Linked DNA regions of Homo sapiens. The protein of the gene in region 2 interacts with the protein of the main gene of each other region in a pairwise test. Each region holds a gene or a part of one and is shown on either strand. Other genes may lie near its edges. The genes, in order: APBA2 and ARF4.

What was found.
Region 1: the proteins of ARF4 (region 2) and APBA2 interact in a two-hybrid assay, tested with the Homo sapiens proteins (one study listed by BioGRID).

The regions. Positions count from the first base shown.
Region 1 is NC_000015.10:29,112,409-29,119,351, reverse strand, and holds the end of APBA2 (amyloid-beta A4 precursor protein-binding family A member 2), read right to left. Parts: intron 5,477-6,943; coding exon 5,336-5,476; intron 2,291-5,335; coding exon 2,219-2,290; 3' UTR 1,037-2,218; downstream 1-1,036. UniProt on the Homo sapiens protein: Putative function in synaptic vesicle exocytosis by binding to STXBP1, an essential component of the synaptic vesicle exocytotic machinery. May modulate processing of the amyloid-beta precursor protein (APP) and hence formation of APP-beta.
Region 2 is NC_000003.12:57,579,848-57,587,948, forward strand, and holds part of ARF4 (ADP-ribosylation factor 4), read right to left. Parts: intron 4,618-8,101; coding exon 4,537-4,617; intron 4,161-4,536; coding exon 4,051-4,160; intron 1-4,050.

The DNA.
Region 1 (6,943 bases), on a different chromosome or scaffold from region 2:
TGTTCTTGCGATAGTTTACTGAGAATGATGGTTTCCAATTTCATCCATGTCCCTACAAAGGACATGAACTCATCATTCTTAAGCATATTCATTCAGAGCGAGTGCATATACATTTCGGCATATACGCAGCTCTCTGTGACAGTCTCCTATGGAACAGCTTTCTTTGCCTCTACCATGTATACTTTCTGGGAAGAGGGAGGCACAAAGCTGGTGTGCGCCTTGAAAGGCCGTCTCTTTTATATGCCCCTGATGGCCAAGGTCATGCTGGAGCAAGCCCTTGGCCCACACCCTCTGGGCGGCTAGGTGAGAGTAAGTCTTCTCCTTACTCTGCAGTTCCCCAAGAATCCTGGGCCGTGAAGGTGGTCAGTGCCCACAGCAAGGAGCTCACGCTGCTGTGGGCAGGCCAGAGAGGAGGGCTCCTGCCCATCCAAGACCCACAGCCTAACCCAGCTGGACCCCAGGCCACCGCCTCTGAACAAAGCCCGTGCTTGCTACCTGGCTTTCCCACACCAGGTGACACCAGAACGGTGGCCATGAAGAAAGGTAAGTGCTGGCAGAGCTGCCAGAATTGTCACTCTAGACAGGCTGCAAAGGACCCACAGGTGCAGACAGGGTGCTGGGATGGGCGGTCCGGCTTTTACACACGCACACGCATGCACACCTTTCCCAGGGGCCATTTACGTTGAAATCTGAAGAAGCCCAAGGCTCCCTGGCTCCCTCATTCCATTAGTGAGTGCTCTGCGGACGTGTCTCCCTGCTGGGGCAAGTGGGTCAAGAACCTGGCGCTGACCCCGTGACCTGGTAGCATTGCTGGCACCTCCAGTTGCAGCGGGGCGTTGCCCAGCTGACACCTGGTGCCCAGAGCACCCACCCACCGAACTCATTAGTGACAGCTTCCAAGGTTCAGGATCCAGGAGGAGCACAGAGCAGCTGTGGCTGCCACCGCATAGTGAATTTGCAGAGCCGCATCCAAGCTGTGAATGAAAGGACAGGCGGGCACCCGCCGCTGAGGTAACAGACCAGTCACACACACGGCTTTTCATCACGACTTCAGGTTTATTAGTGATATGCGCGAAGTCTTCCTACGGGTAGCTGCATGCAACACACGGCACTCCTCGAATACAGTCATCCTAAAGCTTTAGTTACTGCGTGGTAAGGCTTCTTAAGTCACAGTGTATTCTTCAAGGCCTGGGCCAAAAAAAGAGACTTCGAGACAAGATGACGTCAGATTACATGGATCGCTAATGAACCGAGCTGGACTAGATCCGACTTGATCTACACACATGCCACTACTGCTCAGGGCCACTGCGCCACGCTGGCCAAGGGGTCTGCACTCACGGCTGGCTGCTTTAGGTGCGGCCAAGGTCGCGTTTTCTAGAGTGGGTTTCGTTTCCTCGGGGTCGCATGTGCGTGGATGTGTGTAGATCGATTTTAAAGAGGGGGCAGACACCTGTGCCCTCCTTGTCTCTGTGGGAGCCCTGCCCGGGTATGCAGCCGGGTGGGAGGGTGCCCAGAAGAGACGACGGGAGAGGCAGGTGTGGTCATTAGTCACATTGGAAAACCCTAGAGTCTGGAAAAAAGCCTGCCAAAATAAAAGTCCAAACAGTAATAATAGCATCTAAATAAATATGGAGTTTTCATGTTGTGGCCATCATCCTTTATTTACAATCAATCAATCAATCACATGTCCCCAAACTTTCATTACAAGTCGTGTCCTGGGAGCCAGGCTGCCCGTGTCCCTGCAGTCAGTGGCAGAGGCAGCTGTTTGGGACCATTGTGGGGGCCCCACAGGACCCCAGACGTCCCAGCCAAGGGGGCGGGAGGCAGGGGTGACGGCTGCCCTGCCCCGGGAGCCGCGTCCCTCGGAGGCGCCAGTTCGCTCCGCACAGCTTCAGGGAGGAAAGACACACACTCCACACCACGCACAGCTACCGAGACACACCCTGGCTTGTGCAGGGAGAAGACAGTCCAGAACGTGGCAAAATACTTGGAACGCTTTACAAACAAACATTTGTTCTGTGACTCTCCTTTGATAAAGACATACCCCTTTTTGGCAAAATGAAAAAAATCAAGTGGGTGGTGAGGGCACACCCTTTGGGGAGCCAGCGTCCGTGGCTGGGCTGTGGCGTCGGGGTCAAGTCTGCGGCCCGGCTCCCAGCTCCTCTGGGCCCGGGCGGCCCTGCCCGGTGTCCTGGCTGCGTGGCCAGGCTGGGGTGGCCTAGATGTACAGCGGGGTCTCCTGACCCGTGAGGAGCCTGAACATGGCGGCGGGCATGGTCTTCATGTGGATCTGCGGACAGAAACAGGAGGCTGAGCCGCTGCCCTCCCACCTCCCCTCCCACAATCAGGTGAAAGCAAAGGACAGAGGCAAACCCCCCAGAGTTCTGCTTCAAATGCCCATCTCCTAGAGTGAAGGAGGAAGGCCAGCCTGCCCAGGCCTGGGGACACTTATGATGCCTTCCAGATGCAGCAGACTGAGACTCCAGGTCCCCACCCCTGGCTCCAGAGGAGTCAATACAGTTGAGTGCTAGTTTTGCTTCCAGTCCAGCTGACACCCGAGGGGTGAGAAATTGGACTTCTAGTGGTGACAACAGTTTGCCCATCCACTGGGGCTGGCTGGGGGTGGCCAGGCCTCGGCAGAAACTGCGAGGGATGCACTCTGCTTCACTGAGGAGGAGCTCAATGGGGGAAGACACACGCACCCCTTCTTTTTTTTTTTTTTTTGAGACGGAGTCTTGCTCTGTCGCCCAGGCTGGAGTGCAGTGGTGCAATCTCGGCTCACTGCAAGCTCTGCCCCCCGGGTTCATGTCATTCTCCTGCCTCAGCCTCCTCAGTAGCTGGGATTACAGGTGCCCGCCACCACACCCAGCGAATTTTTTTGTATTTTTTAGCAGAGACGGGGTTTCACCGTGTTAGCCAGGATGGTCTCAATCTCCCGACCTCGTGATACGCCCGCCTCGGCCTCCCAAAGTGCTGGGATTACAGGCCTGAGCCACCGCGCCCGGCCTACACCCCTTCTTACAAAACACACACGGGCCAGGAAAGTGTGCTGGGGGCTGGGAACAGGCTCGCTGGGGCCCAGGGCACCTCAAGTTCTTAGCCTTTGGGGATCGGTGAGCAAATGACCCTTTGGGGCCTGGCCTCGAGCCCTGACTCCAAAGGAGCTGGGTATACAAGCAAGGCCTCAGACCGCCCCAGGGAGACCAACCGTGTGGGTGGCGCGCCTTGTAATCCTTCTTTGCGGACACTGGGAAGGAGCAGACTCTAAACGTCTGCTTCAAGAACGGAAAGGGAGCTCTACTGCCCACTTCTCCTCTCCTGAGCACGACGCTCTCCCCTGTCCTGCCCGGGACTGTGCTAGGCTGCGGCCTCCGGATGGGGGGCCCTCGCACTGCCAGGGTCAGCTGCCGCAGGCATGCTGGCCTCCCCACGGGGTGCAGCCGCCGTGCATCTGCCCCTCCTCAGGCAAGCAGGTCTCGGGCCCTGGGCTGAGCAGCCCAGAAAGGCACATCGCGCAGCTCTGCTTCTGAGCGTTGCCCTCCCTCCCCCGCCGGGATCTGTGTGGCCGATGTAGGTTTCCGCTGCTCCTGCTCCCGGCAGGGGCTTCCTCCATCAGCCATTCCCCGGCGTTCCTCAACCAGAAACCCACCCCGAGGCCCCTCGCAACTGCAAGCCTTGTTTATCAGCGACTCATGTTCCGCGTGGGCTCAGAGCTGCTGGAAACAGGCACCATAACCTCGGCAGGGCTGAAAGGATTCCAACGCCCCGGCCGCCTCCTGCCTCTTCCCCGTTCTCCCGCCCGCTCCTCCACGGGTGGATTTCCTCACAGGTGTGGGGCTGCTGGCCGTGGGGGCGGCCGCTTCAAAGCATCTACTTGGGAACACTGGCTTTTCCTTTCTTTGAAGCCATCAAAGGGAGGCTGGTGTCCGCCTGGCCCCTCCTCCTCCTGAGCCAGACCCCTGCCCCCACCAGTCCAGGGAAAACAGGCCTCCCAGCTCCCAGCCGACCCTGCAGTGCACAAAATACCAGTGTCCCGATGTGGCTCCTGGAGACCTCATCCGAAGAACAGGAACTAGAGACCCCTCCACCCACCCGCCCACCCACAGGCTGCAAGGATGGTCGCCACGCACTCAGCCTCACAGAGCCACCAGGGGGAGCACCACAGACGGCCCGGCCTGCTGCTGCTGTCCCCAGACCCAAATTCCCTGCCCGGTCCCCAGCGGGCCCCTCTGTAGGCCGGGCTCCTCAGCTCTCAGCCTCCCGCCTCGTGCGGCCACCACGCTTCCCAGAGAGCCTGCAGCCCCTTTGTGCTGAACACCCCTTCACACACCCCTACACACACACAGACACACCCACTCACACTCTCCTCACACCCCATGCCTCACACCCACTCACAGACCCACAGCCACAGCCGTGCACACATACACACTCATGCTTGACACCCCATGCTCACACACACCCACAGCCACACACCCCTGCACACACCCACACTCGCACTCCTACACACCCCATGCTCTCACACACACACGTACATCCGCATACACTCACCCACACACACACACTCCTCCACACGCACACTCAGGTACATTCACACAGCCACACACCCACACCCATCCACTCATGCACCCCTATACACCCACGTGCACGCACACACTCATTTCCCACACCTACCCACACTTACCCACACTCATACATCACATCCCACACACACCCATGCTCTCACACATCCACATGCACACACCCACACTCGCTCACACTACACACACACACACACGCACACCCGCTGCGCACTGGCCAGGCCTCCCCCGGTGTATGTGCCACCTCCCCAGCACCATCCCCCCTCCCAATGATCCTGCCTCCTTGTGAGCTCTGGAGGAAAACCTGCACCTCCCCCACACCATCCTCACACTGCCGTGGAAGCGATGCCAGAAAGAACTGGACTGTGGGGGGTTCAGCCAGTGAAGTGGGACAGGGCAAGCAGCCTGGCTGTGGGAGGGGATGGCCAGCAAGGGCAGAGAGGCAAGCCTGCCAGGGTGGCCAGAGCTGTGTGCCCTGCAGAGCTTCTGAACTGGACATACAGGTCCAGTCCCAAAAGTAGTGTCCAGGGAGCACCCCCAGCAGCCTGTGCCCTCCCGGTTGCTCAGTTAGAGCCAGACCGGGATGGCTCCGCATCACCTGCCGCTCCATTCACCCTTGTCACAGCAGCCCCGATGGGAGACACAGCCTGGCTGACCTTCAGATGCCCTGTGTCCTCTGGAGCGGGGGAGGCTCATGGAGGGCAGGCGGGAGCACGTGGGAACCGGCATGCAGAGGCACACTCAAAGTCCCTCCTTACCTCTCCGACCGAGTTGGACAGAGCTTGGACTATCTTCTCGTGGGCTGTGGCCACCACGCTCTGCCCGTTGATCTCGATGATGCGGTGGCCCACACGGACGCCCCCTCGCTCAGCAATGCCCCCTCTCATGAGGCTGCAGATCTAAGCAGACATGGCCAGGTCAGCACACGTGTTCCCGCCACACCCGACAGGCGCTCCACCACGTCCCCAAAGATGGGACATGCAGAGGGAAAAGCGCCACATGATGAATACGTGCACGTGCAATTCGCTGACTCACAGACAGAGATCCTTATGATATGCAGTATGTTTCTTTAAAACAAGAGAGTTAATGCCATGGTGTGTGGGGAACCACCAAGTTTTCTGACTCCCACGGTGGAACCTGTCCCCCAGCTGCACCTCCCCCAGGGCCGCTCCCTTTGTGGTCAGGCTAGAGACTGGTGACACAGCCCAAGGCCACTGCCACCTGGCCTCCTACGGCACAGCCTGGTTACCATCCTGGAAGACAGGCACTTAGCTGATGGGCGGGCGGGAAAGGAGAGGCAGCCTGTCCCCTGGCCACCAGAAAGGTGGGGCATCTGTTCTGTCAAGGGAAGGCTCTGTTTGCCGGATGCCCAAATGGTCTACATCGACAGGGAAGAGTCACTTTATTCCTACATCCCCCCCCCGCCAAGTGACGTAAGGGCATTTTGTGCCAAATATACTGGTTCTGGTTTTGTTGGAGACAGGGTCTCATTCTGTCACCCAGGCTGGAGTGCAGCGGTGGGGGCTTCCATTCCAGCCTAAAAGTGACGCCAAACAGATGGACAGGAGGGCCTGGGAGCGCCTGTGACCACGAGACTGGACAGAATGGAAAACAGGCGCCGTGCACACCCGTGTTCACAGCAGCAGTGTTCACAACAGCCGAGGGTGACAGCACGGACTAGCGGAGAAACAGAATGTGCTCTAGGCCTGCAGGGAAACAGTACTCAGCCCTGGAGAGGAGGGAGAGTCTGAAGTGTGCTACAACACGGACAGACCTCGGGGACACTATGCTGCATGAAACAGGCCAGGCACACGAACAAACACTGTGTGATGCCACTGATATGAGGTACCTGGGGTAGTCAGAATCACAGAGACAAAGTAGAAGTGGGGGGCCGCCAGGGGCTGGGAAGGAGAAATGGGCGGTGGTGCTTAGTGGGGACAAAGTTCCTGTTGGGGAGGAGGAAGACGTGCAGGAGAGCGCAGTGGCCATGGCTGCCTGACATGCAGATGGACTGACTGCCACAGAACTCTGCACTTCAAAATGGCTATGATGCTCGATTTTAAGTTACAGATATATTTTACCACAGTTATTTTTTAAATGAAAACAAAAACCGGAAAAATGGATGTCCAAGGAGAATTAGGACTAGAAGAGAAGGGGGTGGAGAGAGGCAGATTCCATACCGCAAGGCAGCTCCTTCGCCACCCCAGGGCCCTCTTATCCTGGAGAAAGGAGACTGTGCTGAGCCCTGGGAGGAGGCGAGTGGCCTGGGATGGGAGAAGCACAGACTCACCTGTCCCAAACACACATGCGTGTACACACACATGCAGACACAGACAACTGTGAGGGGGCCTCCCCGTCTCCTACAC
Region 2 (8,101 bases):
TCCCACCACTTTGGGAGGCTGGGGTGGGAGGATCACATGAAGTCAGGAGTTCAAGATCACCCTGGGCAGAGTAAGACCCTGTCTCTACGAAAAAAATTAAAATTTTAGTAGGGCATGGTGGCACATGTCTATAGTCCTAGCTACTTAGGAAGCTGAGAAGGGAGGATCACATGAGCCCAGGAGGTTGACTGAAGCTACAGTGAGCCATGATCATGCCACTGCACTCTAGCCTGGGTAACAGAGTGAGACCCCATCTCAAAAACAAAAAATAATGTTTGATGCTTTGGGAGCCAATATAGTGTGGTGGGAAGACAGACTCAAATTCAAATCTTATACTACTTGTTATATATATTATCTAATCCTTGACTATGCCTCGTCTAAATAAAATAAAAATACTAACTTCATAAGCTTGTTAAAGATTAAATGCAATCACAGAGATATAAAAGATCATTGTTCTTGGCTTATCATGGGCATTTATTTAGCAAATATGTCTCCTCCTTTCCATATTTCAAAAGCTACTCCTTTTTAGAACCAAACCTTCCATTTTTTTGTTTCTTCTTTTTTTCAAAAAAGAGGCAAGGTCTCCTTTTGTCCCCCAGGCTGGAGTACAGAGGCGCAACTGTAGCTCACTTCAGCCTCCAACTCCTGTGCTCAGGTGATCCTCCCACCTCAGCCTCTCAAGTAGCTGGGACTACAGGAGTATGCCACCATGCCCAGGTAATTTTTTTTTAATTTTTTTTTGTAGAGACAGGGTTTCACTCTGTTGCCTGGACTGGCCTCAAGTGATCCTCGTATCATGGCCTCCCAAAGTGTTGGTGTTTCAGGCATAAGCCATAGCACCCGGTCCTGAAACCTACCCTTTACAAGAGGTAATGCCCCTAAAAGGGACCTAATTTTATTTTGACTGCTAACTTCCCATTTTTATTCTTTTTTTTTTTTTTTAAATGTAAAGACAGGGTCTCACTATGTTCCCCAGGCTGGCCTCAAACTCCTGAGCTCAAGCGATCCTCCCACCTCAGCCTCCCAAAGTGCTGAGAGTACAGGCATAAGCCACTGCACCCAGCCTTTGTTTTAAAATGCAAATAATGCTATCAGTCCCAAAGTGACATTATTGAGAAGGAGAATTATTTTAGGTATTAATCCCTAATTATTTTCTTCCTGGAACAGCCTAGAATCAAGAGTGAAGAAAAGCTAGGATTCTACAGATAAGCCCAGCTGCTATGAAATTATTTGAAAAGCCAAATATTTACTTATTTACAATGGCAAATTAGTTGGAATTATAAGAGGAATTTACTACACACTGTGCCATGGTTTGTTAGTATAAGTTAGAAACATGGTTAAAGCTATAGTTTCTTTTAAATTTTATAGCTAGGAGAACTGATCAGTAATGCTGGGAATGCAAGCTAAGAGCTTAGCTTTGATTCTATCAGGTAACACATAAAGCTTTCCCCAGCTAGCATGAACTCCCTAGGAAGCAGTACTTAGACTTTTAATTCTCAGATGGTCCAAAGAGGCCAGAATTGGGTCTAATTTCAAATTAAGAATGCAAAGTAAATTACAAAGCATTCTAAACAAATCTAGGGATAAACCCAGGGTTACCCTTGGTCAAGAATTATTAGGCTTAAGGATTAGCAAGGTTTTACTTCATATCTAACTCTTTCAAAATATATTGGCCAAGCGCAGTAGCTCATGCCTGTAATCCCAGCACTTTGGGAAGCCCAGGCAGGTGGATCACATGAGGTCAGGAGATCGAGACCAGCCTGGCTAACATGGTGAAACCCCGTCTCTACTAAAAATACAAAATTAGCCAGGTGTGGTGGCGCATGCCTGAAGTCCCAGCTACTTGGGAGGCTGAGGCAGGAGAATCGCTTGAACCCAGGAGGCAGAGGTTGCAGTGAGCCAAGATTGCGCCATAGCCTGGGTGACAGGACGAGAACTCCATCTCAAAAAAAATAAACAAACTGTCTAGAGGGTAGAGCACATTAGAGATGAGTATGAAACAACACAGCACTGCTTATATCCTAGTAACTGAAGCTGCATAATACATACATGTGAGTTTATTATGCTATTCTATTTGTAGGTGTACAGATTGAGTTTCCTTAATCCAAAAATCCAAATCCAAAACTTCCCGAGCACCAACATAACAAAGAAAAAACTCCCTGGAGTATATCGGATTTTGGATTTCTGGATTTAGAATGCTCAACTGGGTACAATGCAAATATTCCAAAACCCCCAAAATTCTGAGATCAGAAACAGTGGTTTCTGGTCCCAAGAATTTCGGATAAGGAATGTTCACCTTGTATTTAACATTTTCCATAAGGAAGCTTTTTAAAGCATGTGCCTCTGTATCAAGTATCTTTTCTAGTCACAGCTATATTGATGACCATAAACATTCTACTATTTTTTTTTTTTTGAGACAGAGTCTCGCTTTGTCACCCATGCTGGAGTGCAATGGTGTGATCTCGGCTCATCACAACCTCCACCTCCCGGGTTCAAGTGATTCTCCTGCCTCAGCCTCCTGAGTAGCTGGGATCACAGGTGCGCGCCACCACGCCCGGCTAATTTTTGTATTTTTAGTAAAGACGGGGTTTCACTGTGTTGGTCAGGCTGGTCTTGAACTCCTGACCTCGTGATCCGCCCGCCTCAGCCTCCCAAAGTGCTGGGATCACAGGCATGAGCCACCGTGCCTGGCCTAAACATTCTCGTTTTTAAATAAAAAAGTATACCACTTATTTAATATGACATACTATGTAAACCTGGTTGTCCCAGCCACTCACCTAGGGTATTCACTGCCACCTGATGGCAATAAACCCCACTTGTATGCAATGTTTTAAGAGGCTGATAACAAGATGACATTGCAAGTCTTAAAAATATAAAGTGGCAGTGATATCACACTTAAAAAAAATTATTAAGTAATAAAAAAAAACTGACAAGAAATTCCTTGGGTGGTAGAAAACACAATCGAGGTGGGACCAGGTTAAACAAAGGTAGAGTGAGAACAAACTCTCCCATCTTGGGTAAGTCATTCCAAGTTTCAGTTTCCTCATATGTAAGAGAGTTAGATTAGAACAGTGGTTCTCAGCAGGGAGCAATTTTGCCCCCAGGGGATATTTTGCAGGTGTGGAGAGATTTTTGGCTGCTACTTGAGGGCAGCTGCTATTGCCATCTAGTGGGTAGAGGACAAGGATGCCACTAAACAACCTACAATGCATAGAGAGCCCTCCCCATACCCAACAACAAAGAATAACCCAGCCCAAAATGTCAATAGTGCTGTGCTGTAAGATACCAGACCAGTAGTATCAGCACAACCCGAGAACTTGCTAGAAATACAGAATCTCAGGCCTTAGCTAGGACCTATGGACTCAATGTGTATTTTTAACAAATACCCAGGTGATTGATATGCATATTAAAGTTTAAGAAACACTACTGTACCTGGATTATATCCCCTGATATTCTGATTCAAGTCATCTAGGGGATGATCCAGGTCTTGGGATTTTCAAAGGTCCCCATGTGATTCTTACGTGCCACCCCCAAATTTGAGAACTCCTGTTCTACAGGATCACTAAAGTCTCTTCCATGCCAGTATTATATATACATACTATGTGGCAATATAAAAATATCTTACAAATCAATGCAGCGAACTGACTTTACTGTATTTAATAAAGTAAACAAGTAACTGGGCTAAACAAAGGACTATCAATTGTCTTACATTCATCAGAAACTACAATGACAGTTTATACAGACCTTACTTTCTAAACTAAGATGGAAAGCAAAGAACTACGGATAAGAGACCTAATTCATTCTTGTGAACTACACCAGCACCCACCCCATCTTCCAAACACTTACCGCAATTGCTTTACAACTCTTCCACCCTATATAAGTTAGCCTTCAAGGCCTAAGTGAGAGTCCACTGAAGAATGTGGAAGTGGTGATAAGACAAATGCCAACTCATAGTAAACACCAATATCCAAGTAAATACTAGATACTAATAAAAACTTTAGAGCATGAAACCCACAAAGAAAAGTTATAAAAACATACAGTATCCCTTACCTGGGTATTCTGGAAGTAATGCTTCCAGAGAGGCCTAATTCTATCTTGACCACCAACATCCCATACTGTGAAACAAATGTTCTTATATTCTACTGTTTCCACATTAAAACCTACAAAGAAAAACAAAAATGACCGCTGTGCAGCGTCATTAAGAAAATAAAACCTTTTATTGTGGAATTTTCTTAGAATAGTGTTTTTAAAGTACTTCTTTTTATTTTTAAAAAATATATTTAAGCCTAAACATCAACAGAGACAAGGCCTCATTATGTTATGCAGGCTGGTCTTGAACTCCTGGGCTCAAGCAATCCACCCGCCTCGGCCTCCCAAAGTGCTGGGATTACAGGCATGAGCCACCACACCCGGCCTGTTTTAAAAGTACTTCTAAGATAATCAACATGCTTAACAAAAAGACAATCTCAAAACTAGACTGTATATATTTCACTTTACAACATATCATGATATAAAGTCATCTGTAAACTTTCTTACCAATGGTAGGAATGGTGGTGACTATCTCCCCTAACTTCAGTTTATACAGAATGGTTGTCTTGCCAGCAGCATCCAATCCAACTAGAAGAAGACATTATAGATTTAAAATCCAGACCAAAAGCACACTCCAAGAAATAATTTTACAATAAATTTATAGTTCAAAACTAGAAGTTGACTGTTCAAGACAACTTCTAAATGAGTTAGAAATGAAATGACCTTATTTCTGATTCCCAAAGGCAACACTTCCTACAGAAAGCCTTTCCATTCTGCTTTCTAGACCAAGAGAGACAGCATGTACTAGTAAAAGGTAACAAGTATGTAGCTGACTTAGGCTCTAATCTCTAGCTTTGCGACAAACTAGTTGAGTGACTTTAGGACACTGAGACCAGAGAAATTAGCCATAAATAAAGGGACTGGATCAGATCATCTAAGATCTCTTCCAATTAAATTCTATGAACTACCAGCATTTTTTGGGGGGTGGAGGGGCAGGGGAGCGGGGGGACGTATTCTCGCTCTGTTGTCCAGGCGGGAGTGAAGTGGCATGATCTCAGCTCACTGTAACCTCCACCTCCCGGGTTCGAGCAATTCTCCTGCCTCAGCCTCCCAAGTAGCTGGGACTACAGGCGCCCACCACCACGCCCGGCTAATTTTTGTATTTTTAGTAGAGACGGGGTTTCACCATGTTGGCCAGGCTGGTCTCAAACTCCTGGCCTCAAGTGATCTGCCAGCCTGGGCCTGCCAATGTGCTGGGATTACAAGCGTGAGCCACCGTGCCCAGCCATACTACCATTTTTAAAAACACAAATTAGAAGTTGATTCAGACAACATGTAAGTGAATAAAGAATTCTTAAGATTTGTAAAAATATTTTCTCTTATTTACAGAGTAAAATTTGGGTAACAGATTTTGATGCTAAGGGGTAAAAAATACACTGGTATAAGTATGTCCTAGTGGTATAACTATGTTCTAATGAACTTAATGTAACTATGTCCTAGTGACCTTATAATGATAATAAAGGAAGATGAAGCCAATTTTACCCCTGCTTAAATCCATTTCAACATTAAATGTGCCAAAATGAAAACCAAAGTCTGATTAACCTGTTATAAAAATGGCCCTATCACATTACCTAATGTAAACAACGAGTTAATGGGTGCAGCACACCAACATGGCACATGTATACATATGTAACAAACCTGCACATTGTGCACATGTACCCTAGAACTTAAAGTATAATAATAAAAGACCCTATCACATTCATCTACAATATAAGTAATATCTAAATTCTTTTTTTTTTTTTTTGAGACAGAGTATCACTCTGTCACCCAGGCTGAAGTGCAATGGTGCAATATCAGCTCACTGCAACCTCCATCTCCCAGGTTCAAGCGATTCTCCTACCTCAGCTTCCGGAGTAACTGGGATTACAGGTGCGTGCCACCACACCCCAGCTAATTTGTATTTTTAGTAGAGACGGGGTTTCACCATGTTGGCCAGGCTGGTCTTGAACTCCTGACCTCGGGTGATCTGCCCGCCTCAGCCTCTCAAAGTGCTGTGATTACAGATGTGAACCACTGTGTCCGGCCTAAATTCTTAAAATGATTCAGTTGAGGCAGAAGTACAAGTAGGGAGGAATGTGTTTGCTTGTGAAAAAAAATCCACACTAGAACAAGAGGCTATACCTCCTTGTAGGGTGACAGTGAAGAACAAATTAAATGCTTGTAAGTATGAATCTCTCAAAACCTGAATATTCTGCAGTGTTTGCTAAAGCCCTCATAAATGAAAGATCAACATCTAATAACCTCATTGAATCTATCATTGTTCTTAGGATATCATATCTGGCCGCCTGGGTTTATCTTATCACAGATTTTTGTATCGATTCAATCAAGTATTGATTTAAGCAAGGACACTTTCTTAATATTTAAATCAAAGCATGACTTAGCACATAAAAGCAATGCTAGTAAGTTAAAAAAGAGCTGAAATTATCTCACTTATCTAATTTACATTCCTATGCAAGTAAGTCTATCTTTTATCAGTTAGTCCAAAACAGAAGCGAAGGCTACAGGCAATTCTGATTCCTTCTACCCTCTTAACAACCCTTTCTACTCTGTACCCTACCAAGAATAACTTTAAGTTCTTTTTGGAGACTCAAGCCTTTTATTCCTTTGTCCTGTAAAACCCTGTTCCCCACTTCGTACTCGGATACAGGTTTATTCCTTCCCAACTACTAGTCAGTGTGATCAGCCCACATCAAGCCCTCATTCATGAGCATAATAATAAAAACCAACTGTTATACAAGTGTTTTATTTTTTGAGCATGGAACATTATCAAAAAAATCAGAAAACATAATTCTAAAAAATACATAAAAAGGAGCTACATTAAAGTTTGGCATCTTTAGTAACAAGATATAAAACAAAGGGGGGTGGCAAAAAACAACTGGATCTTTAAATGGTCCAACAAAGCTGTCTCTTGAAAGCATCAGATTTTTAAGTTAACCAAAATTAACCTTTAAGTTCAAATATGATTAAGCCAAGTCAGAATTGAAACTGAGACGCTGATTAAGAAACACACACACACACGCACACACACAAAACTATGGTACCTGCCAGTTATCACCGGAGGTCCAACTGGACCTCAGATTGTCATTTAAAAACAAGGTAAGGCCTGGCGCTGTGGCTCATGCCTGTAATCACAGTACTTTGGGAGGCTGAGGTGGGCGAATCACCTGAGGCCAGGAGTTTGAGACCAGCCTGGCCAACATGGTAAAATCCCGTCTCTACTAAAAATACAGAAACTAGCTGGATGTGGTGGCATATGCCTATAATCCCAGATACTCTGGAGGCTGAGGCAGGAGACTCGCTTGAACCCAGGAGGCGGATGTTGCAGTGAGCCGAGATCGTGCCATTGCACTACAGCCTGGACAACAAGAGCGGAACTCAGTCTCAAAAAAAAAAAAAAAAAAAAAAAGTAAATCCAAAAATACTGACAAAGAAAAGAATTGAAGAAATCCAAGACAAATCATGACTATATCATTTTAAATTATACAAAAGCATGTAGGTAATCCAAGTTTTCTTTTAATAGGTTTTATATGTGCTTGTATGAATACTGTATGAATAATTATTTTCCTTGCTCCTCTACTGATAGGAATTTTTTTTTACCCAAAAATCATGTATTACTTTTATGAAAAGAGAAAAAAAATTGTCCAAGCAGATTTTTTTTAATTAAAATGTTGGGCTGTTTACATTTCCTGATGTATCTTTTTGAAGACGACTGCTTGAGGGCTTTAAATATATAATATTTTACATACTCATTTTACTTTTTTAAAAAGGGAAGTGTTTACAAAATCATGCAACCATTTCTAGGTCACCCCAGAATTCAAGGGGAAAAAATAATGCGCCCATAATGACTTTTAAGTATCCACAAATTATTTTCTAAATATAAATTACAAGACAACAGTTTAATGGCTCACAGCAACACAGAATGTATCTTATGCAGTTGTATCAAAAATAACAATGCTGTATAAATGCAAATTAAGAGTTTTTGAAAAAGGTATTTATAAGCTTTAATGCACGA